2 linked regions of the Homo sapiens genome follow. The protein of the gene in region 1 purifies or fractionates together with the protein of each later gene. This does not show direct contact. Each region holds a gene or a part of one and is shown on either strand. Other genes may lie near its edges.

Evidence for each region. The genes of interacting proteins can lie anywhere in the genome.
Region 2: the proteins of HSFX1 (region 1) and VCAN purify together in Homo sapiens (affinity purification with mass spectrometry; one study listed by BioGRID). This does not show direct contact.

What each region holds. Positions count from the first base shown.
Region 1 is NC_000023.11:149,772,906-149,776,867, forward strand, and holds HSFX1 (heat shock transcription factor, X-linked), read left to right. Parts: upstream 1-1,162; 5' UTR 1,163-1,776; coding exon 1,777-2,340; intron 2,341-3,177; coding exon 3,178-3,885; 3' UTR 3,886-3,962.
Region 2 is NC_000005.10:83,541,244-83,544,743, reverse strand, and holds part of VCAN (versican core protein isoform 1 precursor), read right to left. Parts: coding exon 2,476-3,500; intron 1-2,475. UniProt on the Homo sapiens protein: May play a role in intercellular signaling and in connecting cells with the extracellular matrix. May take part in the regulation of cell motility, growth and differentiation. Binds hyaluronic acid.

The DNA of each region.
Region 1 (3,962 bases):
AATCTCTAGCTGGCACAGGCAGCCAGTGAGTGAGGCTGGCGGCTGCAGGGGCACAGCCTTTAGAATGAGTCCTTCAGTGCACAGGTCCCAGGGTATACGGGGTAGTGGGAGGAAGGAGGGGACGCCTCGCAGATGCCACTGTTGGCTGGGCTACACCTTGCCACACTTGTTACTGCTTAGGAGGCTTTCTGGAGTGTTCCTTGGGTGCTACGACAATCTGCAGCAGACACTGTCCTTTCACCGCTCCTGGTCCTCGTTTGCTCCCCAGTGATGTCAACAGCTGAGGACTGCTCACGCTGCAACAAAAGGCTCTGCAGTCGCTGTCTAGCTTGCCCTAGTCGTCTCTAGAGTTCTGCCTGAACTGAAACTCAAGTGGGGTTCAGCTCATGACTTGTGGCAATTGACCAGGAAATTCACCAGTTGCTGTGGCTGGAAGGATTTTCAGTCCTGTGGGTTGTAACCAGAGGCCACAGGTGGATTCTGCCTTAGGCTCATGAGATTTCCGACTTGCTGTTGAAGAAAATGCCTTGTGAAGTGACAACAGTAGCTCTGACCCAACTGCCGGTGCCTCGCTAGTTCCTATACGTCCCACTGGATCCTCACAGCCCCGGGAAGCAGGTGCTACTACTCTTATCCCCGGGAGGAGACAGAGGCCGAGAGAGGTTAAGTGACGTGCCCAAGTCACACAGCTCGGCAGCGGCCGGGTTGAGCATCAGCAGTCTGTTTGCAGACCCCTCACTGTCACCCCCTGAGCCAGTGCGCCTTGGGCCCTGCGGTCAGGATGTCTCAAGCGTGGAGGCATCACCGGTTCGTGGCAGTCTCTGGAAGGTCACTGAGCTCTGTGCCCAGAATCGAGTCGGGGGAGTCTGTGCAGAGGTGGCCCTGTGTGTGGGGACAGTGTGTGACACAGACACTGCTTTGGATGGACACCTCTCCCGTGACCTCCTAGCATCCAATCCCAAAGGAACAACTGTTGCAGAGATGGACCGCTGGACACAAACCCACGTGCGTTTCTCTGGAGACACTGGCCAAGGAAAACAAAACATGCTCGAAGGCCAACAGCTGCATGCCCCACCGCGATGTGACCGCAGACACCCGGGGTGTAGAAGGGTCTCTGCCTGGTGGGGGGACACGTGCAGGCCGAGGAGAGGCAGGAAGGAGGCTGCCTCCGACTCCCCACTGGACTGCATGGCGACGGCGTGTGGTGGGGCAGTCAGCTAAGCCATTTGCCTAAGGGGCTGTCGGGCATCTGCGTGCTGGGGACCGACAGTGTGGGTGTGTTAGGAGGATCTGTATGGAGCACATTGCTGCCTCTGGCTAGGACAGGGTGGAAAGGGTGGCGTGGCTACAGCCTGACCCATGGGCACCGTCCTACCCTTTGTTCTGTGCTTCCGAGTGTCAGTCATGTGCTGGGGTCTGTGGGCCCATGACTCAGACGGTGAGCTCTGACCTTCCTGAGCCAGGGCTTTGCTGTAGTTGTGCCTGGCTCAGGAGCTCTAGGACAAGGGGACCGCTCCAGGTCTGCATCTACGGTGTGGCAGGGCCCCTCGGCACTCTTGTGCACTAGTGTCATCTTTCCCATTGAAATGACTGTGAGGACCAGAATGTGCACATGCAGATGGGCAGCTACTTGTCTGCCTTGGCCCTTTATTACACAACTTGCTGGGGGTGGAGATGCCACCCCCCGGCAGTCAGAGCCCCTTTATGATGTCATGGGGCTGGTTACATGACTGCCAAGGGGTGCTGCTGGCCACACTGCACTAGCAAGTTTGCCAGATGGAGGACAAGCGATCATTGAGTATGGCTCGCTGTGAAGAAAGAAATTCGAGAGGACAGGATCATGGCTTGGAAAGGGTGCCTTTCCCTCCCCAGTTGCAGTCAGAGACCTACCTTCACCCAGCAGATCCTTCCCCTGCCTGGGACGACCCGGGGTCCACTGGGAGCCCTAACTTGAGGCTGCTGACAGAAGAAATCGCTTTCCAACCTCTGGCCGAGGAAGCTTCGTTCAGAAGGCCGCACCCTGACGGTGACGTCCCGCCCCAGGGAGAAGATAATCTCCTCTCCCTCCCCTTTCCACAGAAACTGTGGAGACTGGTCAGCAGCAACCAGTTTTCGTCCATCTGGTGGGATGACAGTGGGGCTTGTAGAGTGATCAATCAAAAACTCTTTGAAAAGGAGATTCTCAAAAGGGACGTCGCACACAAAGTGTTTGCCACAACTTCGATAAAGAGCTTCTTCCGCCAGCTAAACTTGTATGGCTTCCGAAAACGGCGTCAATGCACTTTCAGGACCTTCACCCGCATTTTCTCCGCAAAAAGGCTGGTCTCCATCTTGAATAAGGTAATGAACGACAAGCCTCTGGAGGGGTTAAGTCGGTGGGCTCTGGGGCCTGGTCGGGTGGAAGTCCCAGGACTGCCTCCTGGGAAGTGGGCGACCTCAGGCAGGGTGTGGGGCCATCGCTGTGGGCCTGTGTCCCCCTCTGGGTGGAGGTGACATGAACTAAGAGTGAATGTGGGGAGAGGGCTGAGGATGGTGCGGGCCCCTCTCGAGTGTGTAAAATATCACAGGTGCCAAGTAGCCGTATCTGCGTGTCGTCCTCCCCGGGGCCAGCCATGTCATCTGGCGGTTGCTGTGTCCCCCTGACTCCACAGCACATTACCCTGTGAGGTGAGCAGGCCAGGGGAGTCTGGTATTTGTACCACTGTCACCCTAGCTGGTGTCTGGAGAGGTGCTCAAGTGGAAGCACTGAAGGGCGCCTGGCGCAGGAGGTGCAGATGCTCCTGCTGCCCTTGGTAGGTGGGCCCCTGGTGTGGAAGAGCCAGTACCCAGGGCCTCCAACCCAGCCGGGGTGCATTCTGTTGCCAGCTGACACTGCATGGGGGAGGCCCAGAATCTTCTTCCCTCCTGGTCTGCAACTTCAAAGACCCTTTCCGCCGGCCATGGACACCCTAATCTGCCATTTTGAGGCTTTTTCCAAGACGGAAAGGCCCGCCACAACTTGGTAAACCTTGACGATGTGAACGCGAGTCCCCAGCTTCCTTTGGGGACTGGGACCTTTTCCAGAAAGGCCTCCTGGGCCAGTAGAGTTCTCTTGCACAGGGGCGTAGATGGTTGGTAGTTGTAGTCCATCCTTGTGACTTGCAGTTTCCTTTTGTTTATTTAAACTTTGACTTATAGTTAGAGTTCTACTGCCATCCTTACTTTCAAAGAGACTCCCCTCACCTCCTCGTGAGGATGAAGAGAAGAGTGGGTGTCAAGTCTGCACCAAGACATCAGGAGGAGGACAAGCCAGAAGCTGCTGGATCCTGTCTGGCACCAGCAGACACTGAGCAACAAGATCACACGTCTCCGAATGAGAATGACCAGGTCACACCGCAACACCGGGAACCGGCCGGTCCCAACACCCAAATCAGGAGTGGCTCTGCTCCACCAGCAACTCCTGTGATGGTGCCTGATTCCGCCGTGGCGAGTGACAACAGTCCAGTGACCCAGCCGGCCGGCGAGTGGTCAGAGGGCAGCCAGGCTCACGTCACTCCGGTGGCCGCTGTCCCTGGGCCTGCAGCGCTGCCCTTCCTCTATGTCCCTGGATCTCCCACTCAGATGAATTCTTACGGGCCTGTGGTGGCCCTTCCCACAGCGTCCCGTAGTACCCTTGCCATGGACACCACAGGACTTCCTGCACCTGGCATGCTGCCCTTTTGCCATCTCTGGGTACCGGTGACCCTAGTGGCTGCTGGGGCTGCACAGCCTGCTGCCTCCATGGTCATGTTCCCCCATCTCCCAGCTCTGCACCACCATTGCCCCCACAGCCACCGCACGTCACAGTACATGCCAGCTAGCGATGGGCCCCAGGCGTACCCAGACTACGCAGACCAGAGCACATAGAGGGCAGCATTTGGGCAGAATATGTGCTGGTCAATAAATGTGTCAGAAAATGAGTAATTTTCTGACTGCACAAAAAA
Region 2 (3,500 bases), on another chromosome or scaffold:
ACCACTTGAAGCATATATTTTATATTGCAATATTGCTTGGATAAGTGTATTTTCATTGAGTTTATACTTATTCTTTGTATATTGTTTCAGACTTGCTTACATTTCTAAATCTTCAAAGATCCAAATGAGAGTTGAAAGTTTTACAAAATAATTGAAATAAAATAGATTATCTATGGAATACACCCATACTTTCAAGAATCTTAAGTCCTGAAACCCTGAAATAATTACACATGAAAGAAGAAAGATGTCTAACTTCTTATGAAACATTAGCTTAAAGAATATCAGGATAAACAAGGTACTGCTATAAAAGATAACTGAGACTTCCCCACACCAGAAAGTCAAACTCAAACTTTCTGAGTGTTAAGTAAATTCTGAATGACTATAAACCTGGATAGGTACACATTCCCATGTTTGGGATTCACGTTAAAATTAGGTTAATTCAGATGAGTACATCAACTTCTCCAAAAACTCCCCCGAGTTTTCTAAGACACTTTTTCCTATAGTTCCAAAACTATTTGAAATCTCCCTAACAATTTTAGCTTTCTGAATTTTAAAGTACAAGTACGCTCGCTGCCAGGATGACAAGGCTGCAGTTAACACACGCCATAGCCACATGCTGCCCTCTGTGCTGAATCCAAATGACACTAGGTGAAAGTGCTTTATCAGACTGTGATGTGCCACACAAATGTGAAGAAGTACTATTACTATTCCTACCACTGACACTAGACACCATGCTGAGACCATGAAACAAGGACTGAGTGAGTGAGTCTTCCTGTGAACTGGAAGTCGTTCCAATTAACAGGAAACTTCAGTTTTTATGAATGTTATTCTCCCCTAAACAGTTCGTATTAACCTCTGAAAGTTGAATCTGCAACAGATAGACCAGGTAATCCCATATGAGCTGCTGTTTACTGAATTAAGCTAAAGTGACCATTTGTTTTGCAATGAAGACGCAAACTATAAATCTTGGTAAATATTGTAAACTGGAAAATTGGTACATATTTCTCATTCATCAAACTTAACTCTATATGTACCTAGTTATTACCAGTTATTTTTACATCATATTTTTAACAAACTGAAGTATATTAAACTAAATTAAAAAACAATAAATATTAGCCAAATTACTAGATTATCATTTACAGATTTAACACACAGTGATAACAAAAAACCCAATGTCAACTACCTTTGATCAATTTTCCTCAAAATATTTCAAGCCATTTATTAAAAATTGTACTTTCTATTTTACTCTTTCTGAAGCACATCAAAATAAAGCATTGGTGGCACAAAAGGTAATATTGATATGATCAGAAGAATAATTTTAACGATAGTCATGGCATAAAACATATTAAAATAAAACATATATTCTCAACCAAGACAGACATTAAAGTACTGATTTTTCTTCCTCTTTTTGCAGGTAGCAGCTAGGTGGTGATGTCTATTTGTGGATTCCACTGACATTGTTAATTTAAATAATAACATTATGGGAAAACACCATTAGAGCTGATTTCTTAACATTCTCAGGCTAGATTAAGAGGAAAATAAATTCTACAAAGTAAATATTCCAAGATTCCTGGTTCATATATTATTCAATATCAATTGTTTATTTTTATACTATACTGAAACCAGCAAAGAGCAGTGAAAAGACTATGGACTTTAGAGTGGAGCTAAGCTGGGTTCAAATCCTACTTTTACCACAATGTGGCTGTGCCACCTTGGGCAAGTTGCTGAACCTCTCTGAACCTTCACCTCTTACCCTTTCACACAGGGCTTTTATAGCCTTTTCGTGGCAATCAGAAGAGATGGCTTATATGAATCAGTATCAAATTCATGCTTTCCATACATTCAGTAAATACACAGAAAACTTCTCTCAACAGGCAGTATGTTTATATAATAAATGACTACTCACTACTGGTAGGCACTGTGTTTGATGCATTATGTAGACTGTCTTAAACAAGGACATTGCATATAAGTATGAGCTGATATTGATACTGCACAAACTCTGAAATAATTATTAGAGCTACGTACTACTCCCAAATGTTAAAGGCCTGACAGATTTTGATACTACAGCAATAGCATCCATCAATGGGAGGGTTTTTAAAAATAGGACTTTTTTTCTACTTTTAAACCTAACATGTATAACTATGAGACATATGACAAAGCAATACTCTAGTTGTGAGTAAAAACAAATTGAATTTTTATAACATTAATAATTTCATCTTTTCCATGTTGTAATTGTATATTATTTCTAAAACCCAGAAAAATACAAAGTCTACTTCTAAAGTCCAAAACTAATCTATACTTACTGTCATTTCATCTCATTATGAACTCAATACTGTGGCCTGGCCTGCTGTTATGTGAATAATATGAAACTCTCCATTGATTTAACATCACAATAAAAATTACATACATATAAACGTTAGCACCAAGGGACTGTTTCCAGGTTTGGAAACAGATTTATCAATGTTGTGATCTTACCTGGTAAATAGATTGCCGTGCCTTCCACTGACTCTTCATTAATGCCAATCAGGAAATCTGTTTCATTAGAAGTCTCCAGAAGGGAAAATGGTGGTGTTGCAACCTCAGTATTAAATTCCACAGGGTTTACTGTTGCCTGATCATTGGAATCAAGAATTCTCGCTGCCACTTGCTGTTCTGATGCTGCTATCGTGGAATCCTGCCCTCTGATTAAAGCTGCTTGAGTTTCAGGGTTTATTTCTGGAGAAGAAGAAAGCGTGGGCCTCTCAGAAGTCTGTGGACTTAGCCAAGGCACCACACCTGCCTCGACCCCATAGGTGGCAGAAGCAGAAGTAGAGTGTGGCCACTGTGTAGCACCTTCTAATTCAATTTCATCGGCAGTTGTAATAACAGTTCCAGCCTCAGGTGTTTTAATGGTGGGAAACATCTTGATTGCTTCTCCAGAAACTTGACCATCGGTTTTGTTTTGGAAATCTTGGAGAATCTCAGTTCCTTCCACAGCAATAAGTTCTGTGGGAGAAGCTTCCATTTCTTCTAATAACTCAGGTTTACCATCATCTTCTGAAGGTTCTAATTTTGTGTCAGGAGATAAAGAGGGAGGCTCAGTTATGTGAAGGTATTCCTCACTTGATGGTTTGAAAGTCGCTTCAATATTTACATGAATTTCCTTAAAAGAATCCTGTGGGGACATTACAGATGAGCCGACGTCTATTCCTGGCAGAGCACTGGGCTGGGGGATCTCTGTGTGTCCAGAGGCTTCACTGCCTGAGTAGATAGTGAGGGGAGATGATGGTGTCTGAGAAGACAACTTCGCAAATGTTGAAACTGCTAATGTTGTATCAGTGTAATATGGGGGATTGGATCCTTCCATCACATCAGGCACCTCTGTTACACTCTGATCCATAAGGTGGGTAGTAGCAATACTTAGATAGGGAGTATGGTCTACTAATGCCTCCTCAGCTCCTGAAGAGAATTCTGGCTGAAAAGAAGGACCAGCATGTTTTTTGTCTTCATACTCCTCCTGA